7 linked regions of the Homo sapiens genome follow. The protein of the gene in region 4 purifies or fractionates together with the protein of the main gene of each other region. This does not show direct contact. Each region holds a gene or a part of one and is shown on either strand. Other genes may lie near its edges. The genes, in order: PPP5C, PPP6R1, CETN3, USP49, NUDCD3, HADHA and ANKRD28.

Region 1 (3,194 bases), on a different chromosome or scaffold from region 4:
CATCCAGCATGGACATGGACATTCAGGACAGGTGACTGTGATTCTGAGCCACCCCCACCCTCTCTGCTGATCTGCCCTCCAGACCCCATTCAATCCCCTGTGGCCCCGAAGCCAGATAGAGCTTTCAATGTCACTATTCAGATCAGGCCCCTCTCCCACTCAAAGCCTTTGGTGGCTCCGCACTGCCCTAGGAACAAAGTTCCTCACTGGGGCCTGTAAAGCGCCATAGGATTTGGGCCCAGTGAACCCCATGTCCAATGTCAGCCCTCAAAGCACAGCCCTGCCCACTCGCCAACTTCTCCCTGCCTTAGGACCCCTCCTCAAGCCTGGAATATGCTCGCCAGGCTCTGTGCACGGCAGATGCCTCTGCTTCCCGCAGTGTCAGCTCAAACCTCGCCTCCCTGGAGAGGCCTTCCTGAGCACCCAGCACCAGCCCACCCAATCCATGTCCTCTGCAGCACTCACAGTGTGCACGTGCGTGTGCACCTGTGGGTGAACTCTCTGAAGTGTGCCCGTCACTAGCACAGGAGCCCCAAGACCTCCCCTCCTTCCAGGGTTCCACAGCTGAACTCACAAATAAATAAGGACAGGTGTGCTCGGCGGTCACCGTGCCTTCACCCCGCACCATGGTCACGACCGTGCTTGCCATCACAGCCCCATGAAGGAGGTGCACTGGCCCAAGTCGCAGGTGAGGAAACTGAGGCTCAGACCCGCTGTTTCTTGCCAAGGGCACAAAGCCCATCCTCCGAGGCAGGGCTGGGTTGCAGGGGAGAGCTCAGCCCAGGCTGCCCCTTTCTGCTGGAGACACCTGGCCCCGCGCTGCTCACCTGAATCTGGGGGTTGTCGATTCCGCTCAATTTTCCGGATGTCATCCAGGGTGACACCGTCTTCACTGAACAGGCCTCCGTGCATGATCTGGGGAGATGGGGGATGCCGCTGTGAGGGAAGGTGCCACCCACCCACAGGCCCCAACTTCCTTCACCAGCACATCTGCCCAGGTGTGGCTGGGTGGGGAACCCACACTCAGGGCTCGCGCCGTCCTCACCAGCACTTTGCCGTTGATGCACTGGGCCAACGGGAGCCACTCGAACACCTCGCTAAAGAGCTCGTACATCTGGGCTGTGTACTTGGCCTTCACCTCACCCTCGAAACCGTAGATCTGGTTCATGTTGTCTGTCTCGTGGTTGCCTGGCCAACACGGGGACAGAAGAGAAAGCTCAGCCTCCAGGTACATCAGTGTCCTCCAGCCTGGCACCCTCAAGGCCCAGAACTGTGCATGCGTCCCTTGCCCCCATGGGCCTCGCACTTGCCACTGCGGTGCCTTCCAGACTGGAGGTACCAAGGGGGGAATCTTGACAAAAAGTAGGTCCATGGCTAAGCACCATGGCTCACGCCTATAATTCCAGCACTTTGGGAAGCCAAGGCAGAACTGCTTGAGCCCAGCAATTTGAGACCAGCCTGGGCAATATACTGAGACCTCTCTATAAAACAATTTTAAAAATTAGCTGGGCATGGTGGTGCGTGCCTATAGTGCCAGCTACTTGGGAGGCTGAGGCCAGAGGATCACTTGAGCCCACGAAGCAGAGGCTGCAGTGAGCTATGCTCATGCTACTGCACTCCAGCCTGGGCAACAGAGCAAAGCAAGACCGTCTCAAAACCAAAAAGTAGGCCCATCTACAGAACATGTGCCCCAGCCCACCCCACCCTGAGCTCCATCCTTCTGTCTCAGACACAAGCACCCGGCCTCCTTCTTCCCTTCCAGAGCTTGGGGGCAAGGAGAAGGCTGCCCAGTCTCGCATCTGCTCAGACTCTGCTTGTCTGACTTCTCGGCCTGAGCACTTGTTGCCTCCTGCAACGAGGCCCACAGTCGGGCTTCCTGAGCTTTGACCCTGTGCTGGACACTGCTGCGTGAACCCTGTGAGCCCAGGGACACGGGCATGCAGGCTTCGCCCCAGCCTATCACTCACCTCCCAACTCACCCCGGCCCCGCCATGGGCAGGGCCTCCCCTGTGTGGCCCTCACATCCCAGTGAGCTCCTCTTGTCTAATCTCATCTGGACACCAAGAAACCTACATTTTCAACACCCCTTGGAACCCCACCCACATCCCATGTCTCCTGAGTCTCAGCCACATCCAAAGGGGAGCTCCTCAGCTCCTGGCCACACCCTGCTCTACATGTTCCCGTCTTCGTCACTGGCAGCCATAGCCCTCCAGATACTCCGGCCAAAACCCTAGAGGGCCCCTTTCGTTCCCTCTTTGTCTCACACCTGTGTCTGTTCCTCCAGCAAATACTCTGGGCTCTACTTCCAAGTTTCTTACTTTTTTTTTTTTTTTCAAAGAGACAGGGTCTTGCTCTGTTGCCCACGCTGGAGTGCAGCGGTGTGATCATGGCTCACTGCAGCCTTACACTCCTGGGCTCAAGCAATCCTTCCACTTTGGCCACCCAAGAAGCTGGGACTACGGGTGCACGGTGCCACCATGCCTGGCTTTTTTTTTTTTTTTTAGACTGAGTCTCACTCTATCGACTAGGCTGGAGTGCAGTGGCGCAATCTCGGCTCATTGCAACATGTGCCTCCTGGGTTCAAGCGATTCTCCTGCCTCAGCCTCCCAGGCAGCTGGGATTACAGGCGTGTACCACCATGCCCGGCTAATTTTTGTATTTTTAGTAGAGACGGGGTTTCACCACATTGGACAGGCTGGTTTCGAACTCTTGACCTCAGATGATCCACCTGCCTTGGCCTCCCAAAATGCTGGGATTACAGGCATGAGCCACTGCGCCTGGCCTTTTTAAAAAATGTTTACTGGAGACAAAGTCTCACTGTGTTGCCCAGGCTGGTCTCAAACTCCTGGGCTGAAGTGATCCTCCTACCTGGGCCTTCCAAAGTGCTGGGATTACAGGTGTGAACCAGCACACTCAGCTCCGGGCTCTACTTCAATCAAGAGAACCCAAATCTGACACCAAGCCTGAATCTGAGGGGGCACAACTGCCTCGTCAACAGTCTCCTTACTCCCACCCTCGAGCCCTGGTCTGTTCACTCAGTCACTCAGCTTTAGTGCCAGATTTAGGGCCACCCAGGAGCCTGTTTCATGCCCTTGTGCAAATTAGAATAAGGGGCCCATCCTCACACCCTTGTTTGCCATCTGCTGAAAAATGGTCAGAGTAAACATCCATTTCTACACTATCTATGATGTAAA
Region 2 (3,500 bases), on a different chromosome or scaffold from region 4:
CTCAGGATCTGTATGTACACTTGTCTATACGCATGTTACATGTCAATAAAAAGTGAAAACAGCCTAATTCCGAAATCAAAAGTCATGAGTCAAAAACTCAGTTGCAGATGATGACTTAGTGTTCAGGCTGTCAAATCTACATGGCATGAACCCATTTCATCACAGCGACTCTGGGGCCGGCCAGTATTAAGAGAAAAAAAAAAAACAATGTAACATTTGCACTAAAATGTCATCACAGCCTGATTGGAGAGGGACGTCATCATCTCTCATTTTACTGGAATTAGAGAAGAGAGAAGCTGCCTGGGACCATCTTACCCCCCTTTCTAGGAAAACGTGTGAGAGCTAACACGAGGAAGTGAAGTGAAGGGATGAAGGAAGGAGACAGGGAGGCGGGAAGAGAGAGACACACACAGACCAAGCCATACCTCAGGACCTGCCTATTTTTTCAGCCACAGAGATTATCCCTTTCTTTTCATAACTTAACTCATTTGAATTAGATTCCTTTTTTTTTTTTTTTCTGAGACAGAGTCTCGCTCTGTCGCCCAGGCTGGAGTACAGTGGCGCAATCTTGGCTCACTGCAAGCTCCGCCTTCCGGGTTCACGCCATTCTCCTGCCTCAGCCTCCCAAGTCGCTGGGACCACAGGTGCCCGCCACCACGCCCGGCAAATTTTTTGTATTTTTAGTAGAGACGGGGTTTCACCATGTTAGCCAGGATGGTCTTGATCTCCTGACCTCGTGATCCGCCCGCCTCAGCCTCCCAAAGTGCTGGGATTACAGGCGTGAGCCACCGTGCCCGGCTGATTTTTTTTAATTTGTTGATTCTTTTTTTTTTTTTTTTTTTTGAGACCAGGTCTCTGTCACCCAGACTGGAGTGCAGTGGTGCGATCTCAACTCACTGCAACCTCCGCCCCCCAGGGTAAAGCGATCCTTCCACCTCAGCCTCTCAAGTAGCTGGGACTACAGGCACACGTCACCACATCCAGGTAATTTTTGTAGAGACAGGGTTTCGCTATGTTGCCCAGGCTAGGTCTCAAACTCCTGAGCTCAAGCGATCCATCCACCTTGGCCTCCTCCCGAAGTACTGGGATTACAGGCTTGAGCCACTGTGCCCGGCTAATTTGTTGATTTCTTAATGCATCATCTACCTTTTTTTTTGAGACAAGTCTGGCTCTGTTGCCCAGACTGGAGTGCAGTGGTATGATCTCGGCTCACTGCAACCTCTGCCTCCCTGGCTCAAGCCATCCTCCCACCTCAACCTCCCGAGTAGCCAGGACTACAGGTGCACACCACCATGCCCATCTAACTTTTGTATTTTTTGTAGAGACAGGATCTCCCTATGTTGCCCAGGGCTGGTCTCAAACTCCTGAGCTCAAGCAATCCATCTGCCCTGGCCTCCCAAAGTACTGGGATTACAGGCACTCAGGGATTACATGAGCCCACCATGCTTGGCCTTGAATTAGATTTCTATCACTCAAAAGTGAAAGTGCCCCCAACTAATACACACACCAATGCAGGTTCCTTATTTTCTTCATTCACTTCAGCCTCAGTCCAAATGTGTTGGGGGGACCCCTTGGCCCTGCCGTGTGGTGGAAGCTTGGAGAAGGGAAACTGGAGGGGGACTCACCGGACACCAGGTGGCTGGCCCAGACGGGCCCCCCTGGCCAGCTGGCTGCCCTGCCAGGCGCCATCTTCTCCATCAGACTCCCCTGAGCCCTGGGCCTCTTCCTCGTCCTCCTCTTCCTCATCATCATCAAACTGCTGGATGCGGTCCTTGTAGCATATCTCAAGTAGGTTGGCGTTGGGCTGCAGGGCACAGGGGTGGGAGGATGGGCCACACTGCCCACAGCCCCACACCCCTCCACCCGCCACAACCAGGGGACAGGGCAGTACTCACGTTCTCATCGTCAGCATTGAGGGAGAAGGTGATGTTGGCTGTCTTGTCAAAAGGTGCGCTAGGAGAGAAGGCAAGGCATGGTGAGAAGGTCCACCTGGGGGTGGGGGCAGCACAGGACAGGCCACATTTCTTTCTTCACTCAACACAGAGCTGACCCTCATTACTTGCAGATTTGGTATCTGCAAATTCACACACAACCCGAACCACTGGTCCTAAGGGGCAACGCATACATGAATATCAACATCTCACATATGATCACTTTAAATCCTTAAAACCACTCATTGAGGTAGGCTGTTTCCCTTGGCTCTAGAAGTGAGAAAATGGGGCTCGGAAATGTTAAGCGACTCTCCTCAGGCTCTTCCAAGGACAGGTGCCAGAGAGGGATTCAGATCCATGCCCTTGTCCCCATCCTTGGGGCATCTGTAGGAGGCTGACACTCACACCAGCCAGGCACAAGCAGAATGTGAGACTACAGCCCAATAAAGCACATCCCCTAACCTCAAGATGTCTACGGTCCGCGGCTGAAATTCTAAATTATGGGAAAAAGAATCACGTCAAAACTTAAACTGTGCCTGCCAGGGCCCCACCTCCCTCACCACGAGGGTCTAATGATCAGGGTCCACATTCTGTCCCACGTGTTACGGACAGTTCAAGGGATCATTTGTCTCAAATTCATGAAAAATTCTGCCACAAAGATCAATGGATAAAGGACAGTTAATTCTTAAAGGACACTAAGTATGTGACAGACATTACTCACGCACTTCATTCTCACAACCACCTTCCAAGGCAAGTGTCCTTAGTCCCTCCTAGACACTGAGAAGCAGCGGAGCAGAGACCACGCTGGGCACACAGTGGGTCTAGGGCAGGGCAGCCCATGTCCCCGTGGCACTGGCAGCCTCAGCTGACCTGGCTTCTGCTACAGGAGCTATGCGGGGCAGCATCTTCAGCCTTGAGATGATCAAACCAGTCATCCACTTTCCATTCCGGAAATCTTTCTGGGTTTAGTTTTGTTCACTTAACTTCTTAACCCCTCTGGAATTTTCTTGGTAGAGGAAAAGCTAACAGTTTCATCCCGAAAGGGGCAGCTGGTGACCCCAATGCCATCTACCAGTCAGTCCCTTCATTCTCCTGCCAGGGTGGGGTTTTCTTCTTTTTTTTTTTAATTAAAAAAGCAGAGATGGTCTCACAATGTTGCCCAGGCTGGGCTGAAATTCCTGAACTCAAGCGATCCTCCTGCCTCGGCCTCCCTAAGTGCTGGGATTAAGATGTGAGCCACTGTGTCCAGCCCAGTTTTCACTTGAGCATCTTCTCCAGGGGTCTCGGCACAGGCCACTGACCCACAAAGACCAACGCTCTGCAAGTCTCCATGCTGGGCACAGAAGCAGCCAACACAGGATATCACGTCTGCATCTGAGAGGACCTCTGTCCAGCTGTGGACTAAGCCAGGAACAGCTGACTATCCCTCATCGTGGTGTCCCTTACGCTGTGCTGTACAGGGACCCCGGGGCAGCCATGGGCAGCCATCCAGCTCCCACACACTAACCAGCTATGTCCTGGGGCCTCAGTCTCCCTGGCCGTAAATGAGCTCATCGTGGGGAGCAAGAC
Region 3 (3,500 bases), on a different chromosome or scaffold from region 4:
TCATGAGCAACTTGTCTTATTATAAAAGTAAGCAAAACTATATCACACAGAGGCAAAATAAAAAGGACTACATTTATACCATATTTATTTAAGATCTACTATTATCAAGAATTGTACTAGGCTCCACTGACATCAAGCACACAAGGAGTGTGTCATCTACCTGTGGAGAGACATACCAACAAAATAATTGGAGCTAACTAAATAAAAGCTGCTTGCTGACTAAACGTCATACTAACACTGATTCTTCCTCAAATTTAATCCAACTTCAAAACAAGAAAAACTGCAAGAGACAAAAAGTACTGCCATCGCAGACACAGGCACAATCTCAGACAGCATTTGAAAATTCCACTAATACCTTTGTGATTAGAAGAACCTCTTGGTTTTCCAAAATTTACAAAGTAGTAAATAGGATCAAATCTGACTATAGCAGGAAAGCCCACCCAAAAAAAACCTCTGCAAAGAAGGTCTCCTTAAAGCTTACCCATTTTGTTTGGATAAATCACTCTCAGACAACTAACTAAAAATAAATGTAGTTTCAAACCTCAATGGTAATTGTGTATTTTAATACACTAAATATAATCACATGTAATAACATAGTAATAAGCTTAAGTATTTTCAATTTTACCAGTCTTTAATCAATAGCCACAATAAAAATTAAAATAAAAATCTATGGCATAAAAATTGGTAAGTTACTAAATAAAATTCTAACAGTATCTAAATAAGTATCTCTGAAGTAATTATATACACTATCTGCCACTACAAGAAAAGGTATTTATGGCCTTTACTATGCTATTAAAAATAACTCGGTCCTGTTGAAGGTTACAGAATCATTAAAAAAAAAAAAAAAAGCAACTGCTTATAGATGGAAAATACTGGAATGTTTAAGGAACCCAGAATGAAAAAAATACAATCGAAGTCTCCAACAAGCTGTTGTTTTGCTGCTGTTTCACCCGTATTTGGTTCAATAATCACCTATTCAAATGACTATTATATCATCTACACATATTTTCAATAGTTTCCTTTTATCCATTAATTTTATCCAAAAAGGCTTCCAAGTAACTAATTGAAGTATATTACTGTAAGTATGCAAATCATCAAAGCTCATAAATATTCAGTCAAAAAGAAGCTGGCATATCTACAGCCATAACACCAAAATAAAATACCACACTTAACTCTATGGCACATACTCAACTTATTTTGAATTTAGTCCCAACAAAAAAGCAGGACAAGGAAAAAAAGTGTTAAGAAATTTTCTTCACCAATTAAATAATTTACATGACAGGTGAACCAAAAAAGCAGCTTGCTGAAAGTATTAATGTACTTAAAGAAGCAACAGGGTGATTGGGGAACAGATGGGGCTCCAAGATGTATAAATTCTTATCCCACTGGTACTTTAATTGTGTTAGTTATTTCAGAGCTATGTGTCTATATATTCTTTTATCAATATTCTTCCTTAAAATGCAGCTTTTCTTGGGAATTATAAATGCTCATCATTTTGGACAGCAAAAACATTACCTAATATATAACTTTATAATGACTCTCCTCCATGCCTTCAGGTTCTATTCTTGTTCCACAAAGTAGAATTTAATTATAAGGAATATATTTATTTTCAATGAAAATATTAGTAAACTGATATAGAGGCAGTTAAGGTGGGTTTCATTTATTTCACAAAACTCCAAATTTCTGTCCATGCAACTGTATTTTCAAATGATTTAATTACACATACTATCAGAAATGTACTTCATCAAAATACTTTCTTAGACCTTTAATGTGTAAAAATCACTTAAGAATACGGCAAATCCAAAAACATCACATCAAAAGTAAATTAAAAATTATTATAGGTAATGCTAGAAATACAGCTTTAACTGTATTTCTCAATGTCTTTCGGAAATTTCTATCCAAACATACCAGTTAGACATGTTGGACTCCAAACTCATTCCACTACCACCATAGTAACTGCAGCTGCCTCCCCTACCCCAACCAAAAGATAACAGCAACATTTACAGCTAGATTCCATATTTGAAAAGCATAAATCATTTTCAGTCCCACAAACTTAATCAGGTCCTATAGTACTGAGAATACTGTTTTTTTTCTAATTTATTTATTGTTTTAAAACAAGGTCTCGCTCTGTTGCCCAGGCTGGAGTGCAATGGCGTGATCCCAGCTTACTGCAGCCTCAACTCCTGGGCTCAAGCAATCTTCCCACCTCAACCTCCAAAGTAGCTGGGACTACAGGCATGTGCCATCATGTCTGGCTAATTTTTTAAAATTTTTTTGTAGAGACAGGATCTCACTTTGTTGCCCCAGCTGGTCTCAAACTCCTGTGAGCGAGCAATCCTCCCGCCTTGACCTCCCAAAGTGCTGGGATTACAGGCATGAGCCACCAAGCCCAGCCTCTTTTTTATTCTTAAATGTATTTTCTTTTCACCCTCGCCATCCTCAGCGAAAAAAATAGTATTTTCTGTCTGCAGTCTCTCTTCCTTCCAACTCATCATCAATAATACTCTCATCAGTTTTCTTTCTCAAACATATCATATCCCCTTCCCTTAAAAATTGTGAATGATCTCTGCTGACTAGAATTCAAAATCTTCATGTTTTGCAAGACTTTACCAATCTGGCCCAATCCTATGTTTCCAGTCATTTCCCTATGTCTAGCCCAGAACACTACCTAGTTTCCCAAACATGCTATCCGTCTAGTACCATTCTTTGTTGTTGCTGCTTTCTAAGCCTAGAATGCTTTTTCTCTACTCTTCCTGGCAATCTTGGAATGAAATCTTACTCACATTTCCAAAGGCCTAAATTTAAAATCTCCTCTGCAAAGACTTCAATTCCTCTAGATCAGGGATTAACAAATCTTTCCTGTAAAAGGCCAATAGTAAATATTTTAGGCTTTGTAGAGGGCCATAAAGTCTCTAACTACTCACTCTGCCATAGTAGCACAAAAGCTGCATAAAAGAAGGGGTGTGGTGGTGTACAAGCAGCAGCTGAATTTGGTCCAAAGGCTATAGTTGCTGACTTCTGTCCTAGACAAAATTACAATTTACCACATAGTACTATAGCCTGTTGTCACCTATATTTACATTGTAAACTCCCTGAAAGAAGAACCTTTTAGTAACTTTTAATTAAGTCTTCTTCCCAACCCCAGTACAGTACCTAATACCAAAAAATTCAGTGTTAAATAAGCAAAATGAAGACAATAATACAGTATTACAATCTCAATCAGCAATAATAAGTAGTACATGTCAAAAATAGTGTACAAACGTTTGACTTATGTTAGTCTTAAAGACACTAATTCCTAAAATATCTATGTTACTCACTAGCCTCAGGCTGTCTTGACTCTAAACTTAAATTAAATATATTTTAAAGCTTTTTTCCAGTACTAGGAAGAGTCTATAATAGTTAACTGCCAAACTTCATCCAGATATATCTGTGGAACAGTGTCCTTGGGTAGTTCATAAAACTAGGACTCAAATGTTATGATTTAGAATCATCTGTCCCAA
Region 4 (3,500 bases):
GTAGCTGGGATTACAGGCATGCGCCACCACGCCCGGCTAATTTTGTATTTTTAGTAGAGACAGGGTTTCACCATGTTGGCCAGGCTGGTCTCTAACTCCTGACCTCAGGTGATCCACCCACCTTGGCCTCCTGAAGTGCTGGGATTACAGGCATGAGCCACCGTGCCCGGCACACCTGCCTTTTTTTAACTATAGAAATACTCTTTCTGCATATTCTCGCAAGGCCCTGTCTAAGCATTTTTGCTTAGGTTACATGGCTAAAGATGCAGGAAATAAAAGGTAATGGGGAACAGGAAGGAGGCTTGCACTGGCCTTTAGCATGCTCCCAGCTACCTACCTTCCCTGTATGTAAAGAAGGGAGATTGCTCTTTCAAACTATTATGGAACCAGGGTTACAAGCAAACTCTGTTCCCTCAAATTGATCAAAGGATGGCACACCAACAATGGGTACTTAATTATAACAATGAGAATATTATATTACCCCTATCTTCAATAACAATTAAAGATATTCACTGAAAATTAAGCGATGTGGCAAGTTAAACTAAAAATCTGGCCGGAAAGACACTAGGCAAGTTTCCCCAAAAGGCCATCATAATGTACAGCAGAATGAAAGGTATAATGGCCACCCTCCAAATTGCATAATCACAGCAAATGTGGGCTACTCTTATTAGCCCAATAACCCGGGGAAGGCACTCACAGGAAGCCCAAGCTAACATACAAGCCTCTCATTGTCATGGTAGGCACACACATACCTGACTGAGCAGCTGCCCATGAAATATGGTATTCACCACCTTTAAGACCTGTTTGGTGAGCTTCCTCTGGGAGAAGGGGATGAGGATCCGGCGTGTGGTGCCCTCAGACTCGAGTTCCTGCTGCACCTTGTGCAGCAGCTCGCAGAGAAATTCCTGCGCGTCCTGTTGGTCGTAGCCGCGGAAGGCAGGGATCAGGCTCCACACTGAGTGGAGCATGGCGAAGGGCGACACTAGGGCCCACTTCCCGGACCACATGACTCGGAAGAGGGTGTGCAGTTCACGGCAGAGGGAAATGTGCTTTGAACTCGGCTCCTTGTTCTGGATGAGCTCCAGACTCCGACTAATGGAGGCCCTGCCGTTCCAGCAGAAGCCCTCCCGCTCGCATGCCTCGGCCCTGTCATTTCTCAAGGACAGCTCCGTGGCCGAGCTGTTGGTTGGCTTGCCAGAAAGCTGAGTCTTCCCGTTGGTGGCTTTGGGAAACAGATGTTCCGTTTTGGAAGGGTCAAGGTTGAGGAAACATTCTCGGAACTTCTGGAGGTGGCTGAGCACCTGGAGGATGGAGTTCATGTAGCAGGTGTTGCCCAGGTTGCGCAGGCCCGTGACGCCTGGGGCCATGGCCGGCTGGCGACGCAGCTTGAGTGTGGCGGCGGGCACTCTGCGTGAGGTAGGGAGGGCGGCGGGGCGCGAGGCAGCCGGGCCCGCGTCGCGGGGCGTGTGCAGGAGCAGCCGTGCACTCTTGCGCGGAGGGGTGCTGGCCAGCTCCTCCAGCAGCCGCCGTTTCACCTCGCGCCGCCGCCTCCGCGCCTCCTCCTTCTTGCGCTCCAGGGCCTCCTCCTGCCGCCGCTGCTCCAGCTTCGCCTGGCCCCGGGAGCTCTTCTCGAACCACAGCCGCAGCGTCCTGGCCAGCAGGCGCTGACGCCGGTACCACAGAGCCGTGAGCATCTGCGGCTGTCCCTGAGGAGCGCGCTGCGGCAGGACCACGTCCTCACCCGAAGCCATGGACCGCAGCGTCCGCCCACGTCTCACCGGCGTGTCCTGTTTCTGGCCCCGGACCGCCAGGAGGGAGCTTCTTAGCAGCTTCAGGTCCCCCTCTGGGTTATCATTGAGCACGTAGTCCTTGCACAGGTAACAGAACACGTAGAGATCCCGGACTTCCATGGCTAGCGGGTGTCCCGTCTCCTCAAAGTGTTTCAGGGCGTGGTCCTCAATATAGCGGCCGCAGGCCACGTGGGAGCACTTGAGGCAGGCCCACACGGACTCGGTGGTGGCACACTCTAAGCAGCACCACTTCTGAGGGTTCAGGATGGAGTGGTCCTGGGCGAGCCGTAACCGCCCTACATGTTTGCATCTATCCATGTCTTATAGAAGTCGCCACTTTCTCAACCTGGCACGACAGAGTCCCCAAAAAAGAAAAAGAAAAAGAAAACACTTTTAGAAAAATATTTTCCTTAAAAAAAAAAAAAAAAGTAAAAGGCTTGCAATTGATATTTCAACTCTAGATTCATTCATTTTCAACTCCAAATTGGTTCCTTTGAAAGTTAAAAAAAGGCACATTTGGTATAAAGGCAGAGAGTTACAGGACAGTTAAATTACTTAAAAAGGAAGACTCTTACGGAAGGGTTAGCACAAATTTGAAACTTTATGGTGTTTCACATACCAGTGGGAGAGATGAAGAAACTCAAATAAAAAGTCAATTTTAGGTCGATTGCAATGTTTTTCAAAGCAGAGATAACATGATATAAGATAGAAATAAGAGAAAGAAAGTCCTCACCAGTACAAAGTATCATTTTTATGAGACGTGACTAAGGAACATTGTATATGTGGTTTTGTTTTGAGACGGGGTCACTCTGTCGCCCAGGCTGGAGTGCAGTGGCGGGATATCAGCTCATTGCAACCTCCACCTCCCGGGCTCAAGCGATTCTCCCACTTCAGCCTCCCGAGTATCTGGGATTACTGACGCCACGCCACCACACCCGGCTAATTTTTGTATTTTTAGTAGAGACGGGGTTTCAACATGTTGGCCAGGTTGGTCTCGAACTCCTGACCTCAGGTGATCTGCCCACCTCGGCATTCCAAAGTGCTGGGAATACAGGCATGAGCCACCGTGCACAGCCGTATATGTGTTTTTTAATTTATTTTTTGTTTTTTATGTATTTTTTTTTTTGAGGTCGAGCCTCCCTCTGTCACCCAGGATGGAGTGTAGTGGTGCAGTCTCAGCTCACTGCAACTTCTGCCTCCCTGGTTCAAGCGATTCTCCTGCCTCAGCCTCCCAGGAAGCTGGGATTACAGGTGCGCGCACCACCACACCCGGCTAATTTTTTTGTATTTTTAGTAGAGACGAGATTTAACCATGTTGGCCAGGCTGGTCTCGAACTACTGACCTAAATGATCTGCCCGCCTCAGCCTCCTAAAGTGCTGGGAATACAGGCACGAGCCACTGCGCCCAGCCAACATCCGTCTTTTTGAAAAGAACATCTGCATCTTGCAGTAAGGGTGGGAAAACTTTTACCTTCTTTACTGAAAGGAAAGGTAAGTAAAGAACTGGACAAATCTGACTTAGGACAAGAGGTGAAGTGGCTACTGGTATAATATTTAACCAAACTACCGAAACAAAAGAAAAAAAAGCAACGAATCTTCCAGCTGATATATATGAAAATGCTTTTTAAAACAGTAGAACATCCTAAGCATGTTTTTTTTTCCCCCTCCCAATAATGCTTCTTCAATTCAATAATCAGAGAAGCCTTGTGG
Region 5 (3,500 bases), on a different chromosome or scaffold from region 4:
AATCCTAGCACCACAAAGGCAGATCTGTGTCTGTCTTCCTCACCGACGTGCCCCAATAGAGGGGTGAGACTATGCAATGTTACAAGGTGTTGGCACAGAACATAAAGGATGGGGGAAAGAGACTGAGAGGAAGGTCAAGGAGAGGGGAGGATGTAAGGGAAAGAAAAGGGAAACAGAAAGAAAGGAGGGAAGGGGAGGGGCAAGGATGTAGAGAAGAAAAGGCTGGTGGAGCCCCTGACACCTCCATGCGTGTCTTTGGCACTACTGGCAACTCCAATGATGAGCAGGTATTCCTGCTATTTTGTTTTTGAATATAAAGTTCTGTAAGAGATACAATCACAGGAAACATGAGGGCTCACAGATAAAAACAGCCAGAGCATCCTAGCTTCTCTCATGCCTCAACAGCTAAAGTCTACAGAAAACTGGCCAGGCGTGGTGGCTCACGTCTGTAATACCAGCACTTTGGGAGGCTAAAGCAGGTGGATCATCTGAGGTCAGGAGTTCGAGACCAGCCTGGCCAACATGGTGAAATCCCGTCTCTACTAAAAATACAAAATTAGCTGGGCGTGGTGGTGTGCGCCTGTAGTCCCAGCTACTCAGGAGGCTGAGGCAGGAGAACCGCTTGAACCTGGGAGGCGGAGGTATCAGTGAGCTGAGATCACACCACTGCATTCCAGCCTGGGTGACAGAGCGAGGCTCTGTCTCAAAAAATTTAAAAAATAAAATAAAATAAAGTCTACAAAAACTTCATCAAGGCTTTGACAAACGCACAAATACCATTCAAACTACAATAATTTTTATCATCTCTCTGTAACAAAGGCTCAGTGTCAGTGTCTGGGGAAGATGTGAGAAACCACCTGACCTTAGTCCCTCCATCCTGTGGCACAAAAAGACACTTCTAAGGGGTACATGGTAAGACTGCCTTCTTATCTTTCTGGAACAAAAGGCATCTGGGTTCATGTTCTCCAGTCAAAACAGACTCTTTCTCCCGAAGGTCAACTCATGAATACATCTCAGTCCTTTTGTGGACCCAATGCTGAATATGGGCACAGAGTGGGCAGACCCTCACATACACCATCCCCAAACACTACCATGAGAAGCCCTACCCACAGGGCAAAGGTTCAAAGGCTGGCCTTTCATCTAGTGGCCACAGGCAAATGCAGCATAACTGGAATGAGCCATAACCAGGCAGGTCTGGCTGTCTAAGCACCTGAGCTGAGCTCAGCTGAGCAGGTGCTGCAATACTACCTGAGGCTTCAAACTCTGCATGGACGTAGGCCAAGCAAAGATGTCCTTTAAGCTTGCCATGCCCCGGGTGGAAAAGGGGGCCAAACCTAGAGGAACATTCTCTTCCATAGAGACAAGGGCCAGGGTGGACAGGGCTGTGAGGACAGACAGGTGTGAAATCAAATCAGAGGTCAAACCCCATCCCTGCTGCCTAAGCTACTGAGTCACAACCTCAGAAATTCAATCTCTCTATTGTGGGGGGAAAAAAACAAAAACAAAAACAAAAAACAAACAAACTGTATTTTCAGGGGTACTGTGCAGCCAGTCAACCCCACCTTAACTGTGTGTACTAAGTGCTCAGGACATGCCCCTGGTGTGGCAGGGCCAGGTGAGGAGAACATGTTGACACTCCTCTCCGCAGGCTCCTTCACCTCATAAGAGCAGGATGCACCTGTCTGTGAAAATAGGCAAGAACGGACGAGACACAGCAACAGGGCTTGCAGAACCACCTACGATGTATTAATACGTGCTGTACCGGAAGGTAAGACTAAGACAATCCAGATACACCACAAGGTAAGGTTCCTCCAAGAGACAAAATGAGAAGAAAATATCGATCAGCGATCTTCAGGGGGAGGAGGCGGTCCGTGTTTACAGAACAAAAATAAGGAGACTGTGCCCAGCAGATGACCCCTCCCCACTGACTCAAGGCTGCACTGCGTCCGCGTGCCCTGCTGTACTGCGGCCCAAACCCACGTGCTGGGTATATGGGACACGGGAAGTTAAAAATAATCTGAGGAAAGCAACCCTTTTTTCCCTAAATAGCTACTCTTGGAGTTATTAAAATAGGAAGAAAGAATGTATACATCTAATTAATCATTCTCTTTGGCCATGAGCAAACTCTACACTGGGCACTACACTGGTCAGACAGGAACCTTTCTCTTCCTCCTCCCTAACCCACTGCTGACATCACAGAGTCTTCACATGCTGGCCTCCAACATCCAGAAACTGGCTCTGCAATCTGGCTCCCTCCCCTCCTCTACCAAAGGTCCCACCAAGCGACTCTTCATGGGAAGATATGTGCAGATGAGGCACAAACAAAAGCCATCAACACACTTGATGTTACCAGGCTCTGGTGCAGGAAGGGCAGATCTCATGACACCCTTCGAGGTCCTGTTAACTGGGCTCTCAGCCCAGGTATGAGAACACAGCTGAAAGACCAGAGTGCACCTGTGAGGCAGTGATTGGGGACAAGAGCAGGTAAGACAGGTTCCTTGCTAGGCTAGGACATGGCAGGAAGCTGGTCCACACAACCTTCTTCCCCACCGTCATCACCAACCCCTCTGCCACTATCGGCCTTGTCACCAGCACAAGGGCCTAAAGGGTGGACTCTCCAGGACTGCCATGCTCGTACCAGCTCATGGCTCTGTGGCTTGCCCTGCAGCTTCTGGTGGTAGTCAAAGGTAAGCCTGTCCAACACCGCCTGTTCCTCCTCATCCACGGTGGCCATGGAGCGCTCCTTGTTGATCTTGTCAATGTCGATGGGCTCTTCTCCCTCCAGGATGGCGTTCCACCAATACTCGCCCACCTTGCTCAGGTTCACCTGGGGACAAGCAGGACAGAGACCTGAGTCAGAGACCTGAGACAGGTGTCCAGGGCTGGGGACAGAGCAGAGCCCACTGAGGGATGGGTGTCCAGGATAAGCTCAGGACCAACTACACAAAGGGAGGTGACAGACAAGAGGGGGTGCCAGAACCCAAGGCAGGACCCTCTGTGCCTGGGAATGCATTTGCTGCCTGTGCTAACATATCCCAGGGAAGAGCTAGGAGGCACATACCTGAGGGGACTGACATTCTGGAAGATGCCTTTATCCTTCTTCAGCAGGTCCTGGATACTCAGGACAGTGCCTGTTCCATGTGCACACCTTGCCCACTCTCATGAAGAAAGGCTATTTTCCAAGACCCATGACACCCCCCCACACCAGGACCTGTCCTGGGCCAACCCAGCCTGCCCCCATGCTTGCCATGGAAGGCTCTGCTTAGCTCTTATCAACCAACTACCTCTCCAGTGATCTCTCTTGCTTCCAAGAGCAACATCCAACATTCTGCTATCTTAGGGGTAAGCTGGGACCTATGAGACTTAGGGCTCAGCCTAATGCATGACAGAATCTCCTGGGGAGTCCTCACCCCATGACAGGGCACCATGCCCTGTCCCCACTTCTTCCTCACTGGGGCCAAGCTTGCTGCATGAGGGGGTCCTCCAGCCCCATTCCCTAA
Region 6 (3,500 bases), on a different chromosome or scaffold from region 4:
GGTCAGCCTAATTATCTAGATGAGGAAAAAAGGTATCAAGAGGTTAGTAGTACAGAGTCAGTCAGCATATGACGGGGTGGGATTCCATCACAGGTCTGTCTATCTCCAATGCCATTATGTAATACACAGATCAAGTAAATGTTATGTAAACTTATCAATCCAAAAGTTGTTTCTAACCCCTAAAGTGTTCTTTTACTTACATCTGAAATACTTAGGACCTGATTCAGACTCAGTACTCCTGAGCAAAAGGAATTAGCCTTTATTGATGTAGAATTTCTATATAATAAAATGCACAGATCTTGAAGTGTTCACATCAATGAGTTTTGACAACTGTATATACATCCATATAATCACTAACCCAAGCAAAATATATTTACATCACTCAGAAAGTTGTGCCAAAGATGACCAACTCATCCTGGATGGCTGGGGATTTCCCAATTTGTGGCACTGAGGGTCCTGTATCCCTTGCTCCCGGGCAAACCAAGATGGTTGGTCACCCTATTTTGTCTTTTTGGCCTTACTTTTAAATGAATGACAAAAGGCAAGCAGGTGAGAAAAGCTGTCCTAGATACTTGGAGGGCAGAACTGCAAAGTGTGATGCTTGCTCTGCTCCGATGGCGGGGAGAGGTTACCATCAAATGAACAGCAACGGCATCGCCTGTACTGATTTTAGATGCCACACAGATGTCTTGAGTGATATGACATGGCCAGACTGTCCATCTGTAGACTATCGGCTGCAACTTCTCCCTATGACCTTTAGCCTGCCATCATTGAGCCTGCCTCTGTCAGGTCCCCGCATCACTTCTAATCTGCTGTGTGCTAGGAAACTAGATTACCTTGCATTAGCAAGCTAGAAGAGTAGGAATAAATAGGCTTTTGTGTTTTCAGTACATAGAATTTGTATTAACACTTTCAGCTGCTTAAAGTTCTTTTATAATTCCTGCCTACCTTCGGCTGGTTCTGGTTAGCAGAGGCTAACTGGTATCCTCCAGAGAAGTGAGTTGTTTTACTTCTCTTTGAATGATTTCACTTCCCCTTAATTACTCTGGTTGAGAGCAAAAATAAATTTCTGGGCATCATTCCAAATACTCACAGAAAGTGCTTCTATACCCAGCCCTTTCATGTCCCGGGGTAGAAGGTGTAAGCAAACCCACGGGCAGACACATCCCACCATTCCTGCCATTCCCTGATCTGGAGGTGGAACCAAACCTGTTCTAAACAGTCACTGACTCTGCTCTGTAGCCAAACTGGTATTTTGGAGCATCCTTTCTTAAGGCCTATCCTTCAATGCCTAATTCTAGGATACAGGTGGGCTTTATATCCTGAACCTGAAAAATAATGCCCATTTGGGATCCTTGAAAAGGATATTTTTTGTTGTACTTAACTTACTCCTGCATCTCACACTAGTCATGGTATTAGCATTTATTGTGTCCAGTGTTTAGGAACCACCCGCATCCACTCCGTAATCCACTGTCTCTTCTGTACTCAAGCTGTAAGCCTTTATCAGTGAATCTGAAGCAATAAAACATCTCAGGGTTTTTCTCTGTTCCGAGTTTACCTTCTCAGGTCTTTTGCTGACAGCAGCGATTTCACTGATTGGGAGAGCAGATGTGTTACTGGCAAAGATACAGTGATCTGGAATCACCTGCAGGGGAAAAGCATTTAACAATGTGTCAGGTAGGCCTGGGAGATGATTAGAGGCCACATCAAAGCTAATGAGTGACACCTGGGCCCAGCCCACTCTGTCCCCCACAACTGCTCAGACAGTAGATGTCACTCACCCAGACATTGACGGATCACCTAGGGGGTTTTGTGTCGGGGAATATGTTGACCTTGTTCCTTTTCCCATTCTGCCTTCCTCTAGTTATGGCCCATCATAAGGTCACCTTATCCTGACCTGGAGACTACATCTCAGCAGTTGGGTCAATAAAACAGCTTAGAACAACACTGAAAAGACGGCCTTGAATTGCAATTCATTGATTTCAACACCCAGCATGGGTGTCACCTCCTCTTTTGTTTGGATCTGCCCTGAATCACTCCCCGCTTCACCTTTATAAGAACAAGCCAAAATGTGCATGCTTGTCTCATTTTATACAGTGTGTTACTAAAAAACGGCATACCACTATAGTTGCAGCTACAGTACACAAATACTATTAACTATTAGCTTTATCCACCTGGAGAATAGTCTCTAATGCAGATTGTCTCCGCATTCTGGCCACGATCCCAACTTATTCATGTTTTTTTTTTGTTTTTTTTTTTTAAAGACAGAGTCTCGCTCTGTTGCCCAGGCTGGAGTGTAGTGGTGCAATCTAGGCTCGCTGCAACCTCCGCCTCCCAGTTATTCATGTTTTTATTCAGATGGTTGGATGAGAAACGTGGAAGGGACACCTGTCAAATGTGTGCAAATCTGGAACAGGCAGAATCCTAACAGAGATGAGAATCAAGGAGGAAGACACATTCAACACACTGAAAAGCTGAGTACAAAATAAGATTATAATGCAATAAAAGTAAAGTACTGCCTTAAGATTTAAAAAAAAAAGGAAAGAAAAGAACTGTATAGGTACTTGAAGGACAAGACCTGGCTTGGCAGTATTTGTGATAAAGATCCCATGATTTTAGTTAATCAAGAGTGGAGGGTGGGCATGGTGGCTAAACAACTATAATCCCAACACTTCAGGAGGCCAAGGATGGAGGATTACTTGAGGCCAGGAGTTCAAGACCAACCTCGGCATCATAGTGAGACCCTATATCTACAAAACATAACTTTTTTTTTTTTTTTGGAGACAAAGTCTTGCTTTTTCGCCCAGGCTAGAGTGCAGTGGTGCAATCTCAGCTCACCGCAAGCTTTGCCGCCTGGGTTCAAGCAATTCTCCTGCCTCAGCCTCCCGAGTAGCTGGGATTACAGGCACCTGCCACCATGCCTGGCTAATTTTTTTGTAGTTTTTAGTAAAGACAGGGTTTCATCATCTTGGCCAGGCTGGTCTTGAACTCCTGACCTCGTGATCCACCCGCCTCAGCATCCCAAAGTGCTGGGATTACAGGTGTGAGCCACAGTGCCCGGCCCTACAAAAAATAACTTTAAAAAACTAGCCAGGCATGGTGGTACATACCCATAGTCCTAGTTACTCAGGAGGCTGAAGTGAGAGGCTCGCTTGAGCCCAGGAGTTCAAGGTTACAGTGAGCTGTGATCATGCCACTGCACTCCAGCCTGGGTGACAGAGTGAGACCCTGTCTCTAACAACAAAAAAACAAAACAAAAGTGGAATGAATTGACAGTACAGCATGACTGTCAGAAAGCTTACGTAGTGTCAGGTTACTTTCTTAGTAATATAGTGTCTAATGCTGGTGGTGAAATCCTTTCTGAAGAGCAAACTAATGTCTCCAAAGCTGGCTGGCAAACATTCTTCCCTTCCTTGGACATGTATGTCTTTTCTCCCAGCTAGAAGTAGAGTCTGTTTCCCTTCTCCTTGAATCTGGGCTGGTCTTGTGACTTGTTTTTA
Region 7 (3,500 bases), on a different chromosome or scaffold from region 4:
CAAATCTTTATTTAAAAGCCGAAATATCAGCCTTCTCTCTCTCTTTTGCTATTTGAAAGGTAGTCTTCAATTTGGCAGGCAACTGCTTCTCTCTCCAAATAGTAACAGGTTACAAACATGCTACTTTAAATATGAATAGGACCTAAGGCTTTAGTATTTTAAATCTTGCCCAATACAGAAATGCCTTTCAAGAGACTTTAGTGATGCTTAATTTATGAACAACAAGGAATTATTTTCCTTTTGATTATTCACTTTTTCAAAACTCATAGATCAGAATAAACAAAAAATCCCCCAACCCATGGTGGGGACACAAAAGTAACATAAGTGACTAAGGTGTGCCATTCATAGAGAGGTTGAAGACTCCATGCCCCAGGACCACTTAGCTGCAATAGGGTGAAATAGTCTACTTTTTGATTTCATGAATTTTTTTCTAGGAAATTCTTTACATTTTCAAACAAAAATAGTACTATTTTAAACCCAAACCATTCAAAACAGGGCAACAGCCTGACCCCAATCCATCTCAATGTCTATGTCACAAGTATTTTCACCCGTATTGCACCCAGTCAGCTGGTTTTTAATTCTAATAGTATAAAAATTGGAAATTTGAAATAGTTCTGTAAAAGAAAAAAATGTAAAAATACATCTGCTTTCTCTCATGGTTTAATACAGCATTGGAAGGCTTTCAGATGTTTTCTTAAAAAAAAAACAAAACCCAAAAAAACTCAACATTTAAAACCAAATCTCAGCTTCATTTCCAGAAATATTGCAGTTTGGTTTAGGTAATGTTTCATTTAATCTACTCCAGTTTCCACAAAATGGCATTTTATTAAAAAAACCTTTCAGTTATTTGGTCCTTTTGCAATTTGCTGTGCACATAATGCCTACTGTACCAAACTTTTATTGCCTTTAAATTTAGTTGTAATTTTATTGATAAAATTTAAATCTAGTGTCTTTATTTCTTCTGTTACAATAGTGTTGCTTGTGTAAGCAGGTTAGAGTGCACAGTGTCCCCAATTGTTCCTGGCACTGCAAAACCAAATTAAACAATTCCACAAAGAATTCTGACATCAATGTGTTTTCCTCAGTCAGGTCTATTTCAAGATTCTAGAAGTTCCTTTTGTAAAACTTGCCTTTAAAACTCTTCCTCCTAATGCCATCAGATCTCTTAACATTGGCTCACTGTGGGATCTTTCCTCTTAGGTTGAATTTCTACGTGAATATCAAAGTGCCTTTTTCCTGAAAAAGCACAGTTTGAAGCTTTACTGTGAGAACTCCCTCCTCCTCAGCCTCTCAGTAGGTCTCAGAATCGGAGTCGTTGAGCTCATCCACGTCAGTGTATAAGTACTCCTGTTCCCCTCCAATGTTATTGAAACTGCAATAGGAGCTAGGTTCATTCCTCATGATGGGCAAAGCTTCAAAGCTGACTGTTTTTGAGGTGTTGGTATAACGGTTAATGGCATTGAATGTTAAGGATGATAAAGGACTACTTGATGAGACAGGCATCATGGTGGCCAAAATGAGAGCCAGGCAATCAGCCACATCCTTATTGGGAGCACAGGCCAAAGCTGGGGTATAGCCTAGAATTAAAGATAAAATTTAAAAATTAAGCATCCTGAGATGTATTTCACCAAAGACAAGGAAATAAGCCTAAAGTACTTCAACTTTAGACATATTTTACATTACTTAGCTTATAATAAATTGCTGTAACCAGCATGATTCGCAAGTTTCTAATAAGTAGAAAAAGAATAGCCATAGAAACCTAGGGTGGAAGGGGATGTTAGACTAGACAACAGAAGAGGAAGCAGGCCCAGAGAAGAATGATTCCCCAAGGTCTCACAACTTATCCGTATCCATCTGAATTCACAGAAAAAACTGGGCTAGAATAAGAAAAACACCACATATCGTGAATATTCTTTCAGGATGGTAGGCAGAGATTTACTGTTAATTTGCAGTTATATCAGTGTCAAGGTAAGAAAAAATAAAAAAATTTAATTTGTAGTTATGTAAGGAAACTTTTTGATGCTAAGAAATCTTAAATGTGTACAGCTTCATGAATCAGCCACAGGGCAGGTGCTCAAAAGATATGTGTTGAATGAATGACACTTAGTTGTCAATTTAACTTTTCTCTTGGGGTCACAGTCTCTTGAAGAAAAACAGTAGACAAACTAAGCAGATGAACTTTAAAAACTACTAAATCAAAACAAATATTTCCTTTGTAAATATTCCCTTTTTTTAAGCGGAAGACAACTGACCTTAGTCGTAAGTTACCACAAAGTGTCAACACAGCAAACCAAGGAGGAAACATTTGGTACCTCAGTTGGTACAAGACTCAGTCTTGAGGACGGAGCGGGAGAGAAGTGATAATAGTGTGATGCCAAGCTTCAATTATACCATATGGAACTTTAATAGTTTTATCACATAACATACATTTGTATAACCACCATACAGATTAAGAAAGAGAACATTACCAGCATACCAGAAGCCTCCATATATCCTCTACCCAGTCGTTACACCTTTCTTCTTCCACAATGGTAACTACTATCCTGACTTATGGGGTAGTAATTTCCTTGCTTTCAACTTGGAGTCATAAACACTATAGTTTTTTTTTTGTTTTTTTTTTTTTGAGACAGAGTCTGCTCGGTCACCCAAGCTGAAGTTCAGTGGTGCAAACTTGGCTCACTGCAACCTTTGCCTCCTGGGTTCAAGTGATTCACCTGCCTCAGCCTCCTGAGTAGCTGGGATTACACGTGTGTGCCACCATGACCAGCTAATTTTTTATATTTTTAGTAGAGATGGGATTTCGCTATGTTGGCCAGGCTGGTCTCAAACTCCTGGCCTCAAGTGATCTGCCTGCCTCGGCCTCCCAAATGCTGGGATTACAGATGTGAACCACCTTACCCAGCCTACAGTTTAGAGTTTTTAAAAAACTTAATATAAATGGAATCATGTAGTATGTATTATTTCATATCTGGCATTTTTGTGTAGCATTATATGAAATTTATCAATGTTGTATGTAACTGTAGTTGGTTCATTTTCATTGTTATACAGTATTTCATTGTGTGATTATACTATGGTTTAGTTATACATTTCAACTACTGGGCATCTGGTTGCTTCCAGTTCTCCCACATATTTTCATCTATGCTATATTGGCCTTGATAAAAAAAGGATTTTTTTTTTTTTTTTTGAGACAGGGTCTTGTTCTGTCACCCAGGCTGGAGTGCAGTATAATGATCATGCTCACTGCACCCTCAACCTCTGGGCTCAAGTGATCCTCCCACCTCAGCCCCCTGACTAGCTCTGACTATAGGCACATGCCATGCCTGGCTAATTTTTAAACTTTTTTGTAGATACAGGGTCTCGCTTTGTTCCCCAGGCTGGTCTCAAACTGCTGGCTTTAAGTGATCTTCCCGCCTCTGCCTCCCAAAGTGCTGGGATTATAGGAGTAAGCCACTGTGCCCAGCCACAAAAAGTAATTTTTCCCCCTTTGTAAAGTTCCCATT

The links.
Region 1: the proteins of USP49 (region 4) and PPP5C purify together in Homo sapiens (affinity purification with mass spectrometry; one large-scale study listed by BioGRID and IntAct). This does not show direct contact.
Region 2: the proteins of USP49 (region 4) and PPP6R1 purify together in Homo sapiens (affinity purification with mass spectrometry; one large-scale study listed by BioGRID and IntAct). This does not show direct contact.
Region 3: the proteins of USP49 (region 4) and CETN3 purify together in Homo sapiens (affinity purification with mass spectrometry; 4 studies listed by BioGRID and IntAct, with this or other methods). This does not show direct contact.
Region 5: the proteins of USP49 (region 4) and NUDCD3 purify together in Homo sapiens (affinity purification with a luminescence readout; one large-scale study listed by IntAct). This does not show direct contact.
Region 6: the proteins of USP49 (region 4) and HADHA purify together in Homo sapiens (affinity purification with mass spectrometry; one large-scale study listed by BioGRID and IntAct). This does not show direct contact.
Region 7: the proteins of USP49 (region 4) and ANKRD28 purify together in Homo sapiens (affinity purification with mass spectrometry; one large-scale study listed by BioGRID and IntAct). This does not show direct contact.

Annotation. Positions count from the first base shown.
Region 1 is NC_000019.10:46,385,087-46,388,280, reverse strand, and holds part of PPP5C (serine/threonine-protein phosphatase 5), read right to left. Parts: intron 1,189-3,194; coding exon 1,046-1,188; intron 916-1,045; coding exon 828-915; intron 1-827. UniProt on the Homo sapiens protein: Serine/threonine-protein phosphatase that dephosphorylates a myriad of proteins involved in different signaling pathways including the kinases CSNK1E, ASK1/MAP3K5, PRKDC and RAF1, the nuclear receptors NR3C1, PPARG, ESR1 and ESR2, SMAD proteins and TAU/MAPT.
Region 2 is NC_000019.10:55,235,018-55,238,517, forward strand, and holds part of PPP6R1 (serine/threonine-protein phosphatase 6 regulatory subunit 1), read right to left. Parts: intron 1,954-3,500; coding exon 1,896-1,953; intron 1,805-1,895; coding exon 1,626-1,804; intron 1-1,625. UniProt on the Homo sapiens protein: Regulatory subunit of protein phosphatase 6 (PP6). May function as a scaffolding PP6 subunit. Involved in the PP6-mediated dephosphorylation of NFKBIE opposing its degradation in response to TNF-alpha.
Region 3 is NC_000005.10:90,399,757-90,403,256, forward strand, and holds part of CETN3 (centrin-3), read right to left. Parts: intron 1-3,500. UniProt on the Homo sapiens protein: Plays a fundamental role in microtubule-organizing center structure and function. As a component of the TREX-2 complex, involved in the export of mRNAs to the cytoplasm through the nuclear pores.
Region 4 is NC_000006.12:41,804,876-41,808,375, forward strand, and holds part of USP49 (ubiquitin carboxyl-terminal hydrolase 49), read right to left. Parts: intron 2,137-3,500; 5' UTR 2,109-2,136; coding exon 753-2,108; intron 1-752. UniProt on the Homo sapiens protein: Deubiquitinase that plays a role in several cellular processes including transcriptional regulation, cell cycle progression or innate immunity.
Region 5 is NC_000007.14:44,389,659-44,393,158, forward strand, and holds part of NUDCD3 (nudC domain-containing protein 3), read right to left. Parts: intron 2,828-3,500; coding exon 2,639-2,827; intron 1-2,638.
Region 6 is NC_000002.12:26,196,133-26,199,632, forward strand, and holds part of HADHA (trifunctional enzyme subunit alpha, mitochondrial precursor), read right to left. Parts: intron 1,646-3,500; coding exon 1,559-1,645; intron 1-1,558. UniProt on the Homo sapiens protein: Mitochondrial trifunctional enzyme catalyzes the last three of the four reactions of the mitochondrial beta-oxidation pathway.
Region 7 is NC_000003.12:15,668,980-15,672,479, forward strand, and holds part of ANKRD28 (serine/threonine-protein phosphatase 6 regulatory ankyrin repeat subunit A), read right to left. Parts: exon of another isoform or gene 2,655-3,500; coding exon of another isoform or gene 2,631-2,654; exon of another isoform or gene 2,381-2,630; intron 1,578-2,380; coding exon 1,291-1,577; 3' UTR 1-1,290. UniProt on the Homo sapiens protein: Regulatory subunit of protein phosphatase 6 (PP6) that may be involved in the recognition of phosphoprotein substrates. Involved in the PP6-mediated dephosphorylation of NFKBIE opposing its degradation in response to TNF-alpha.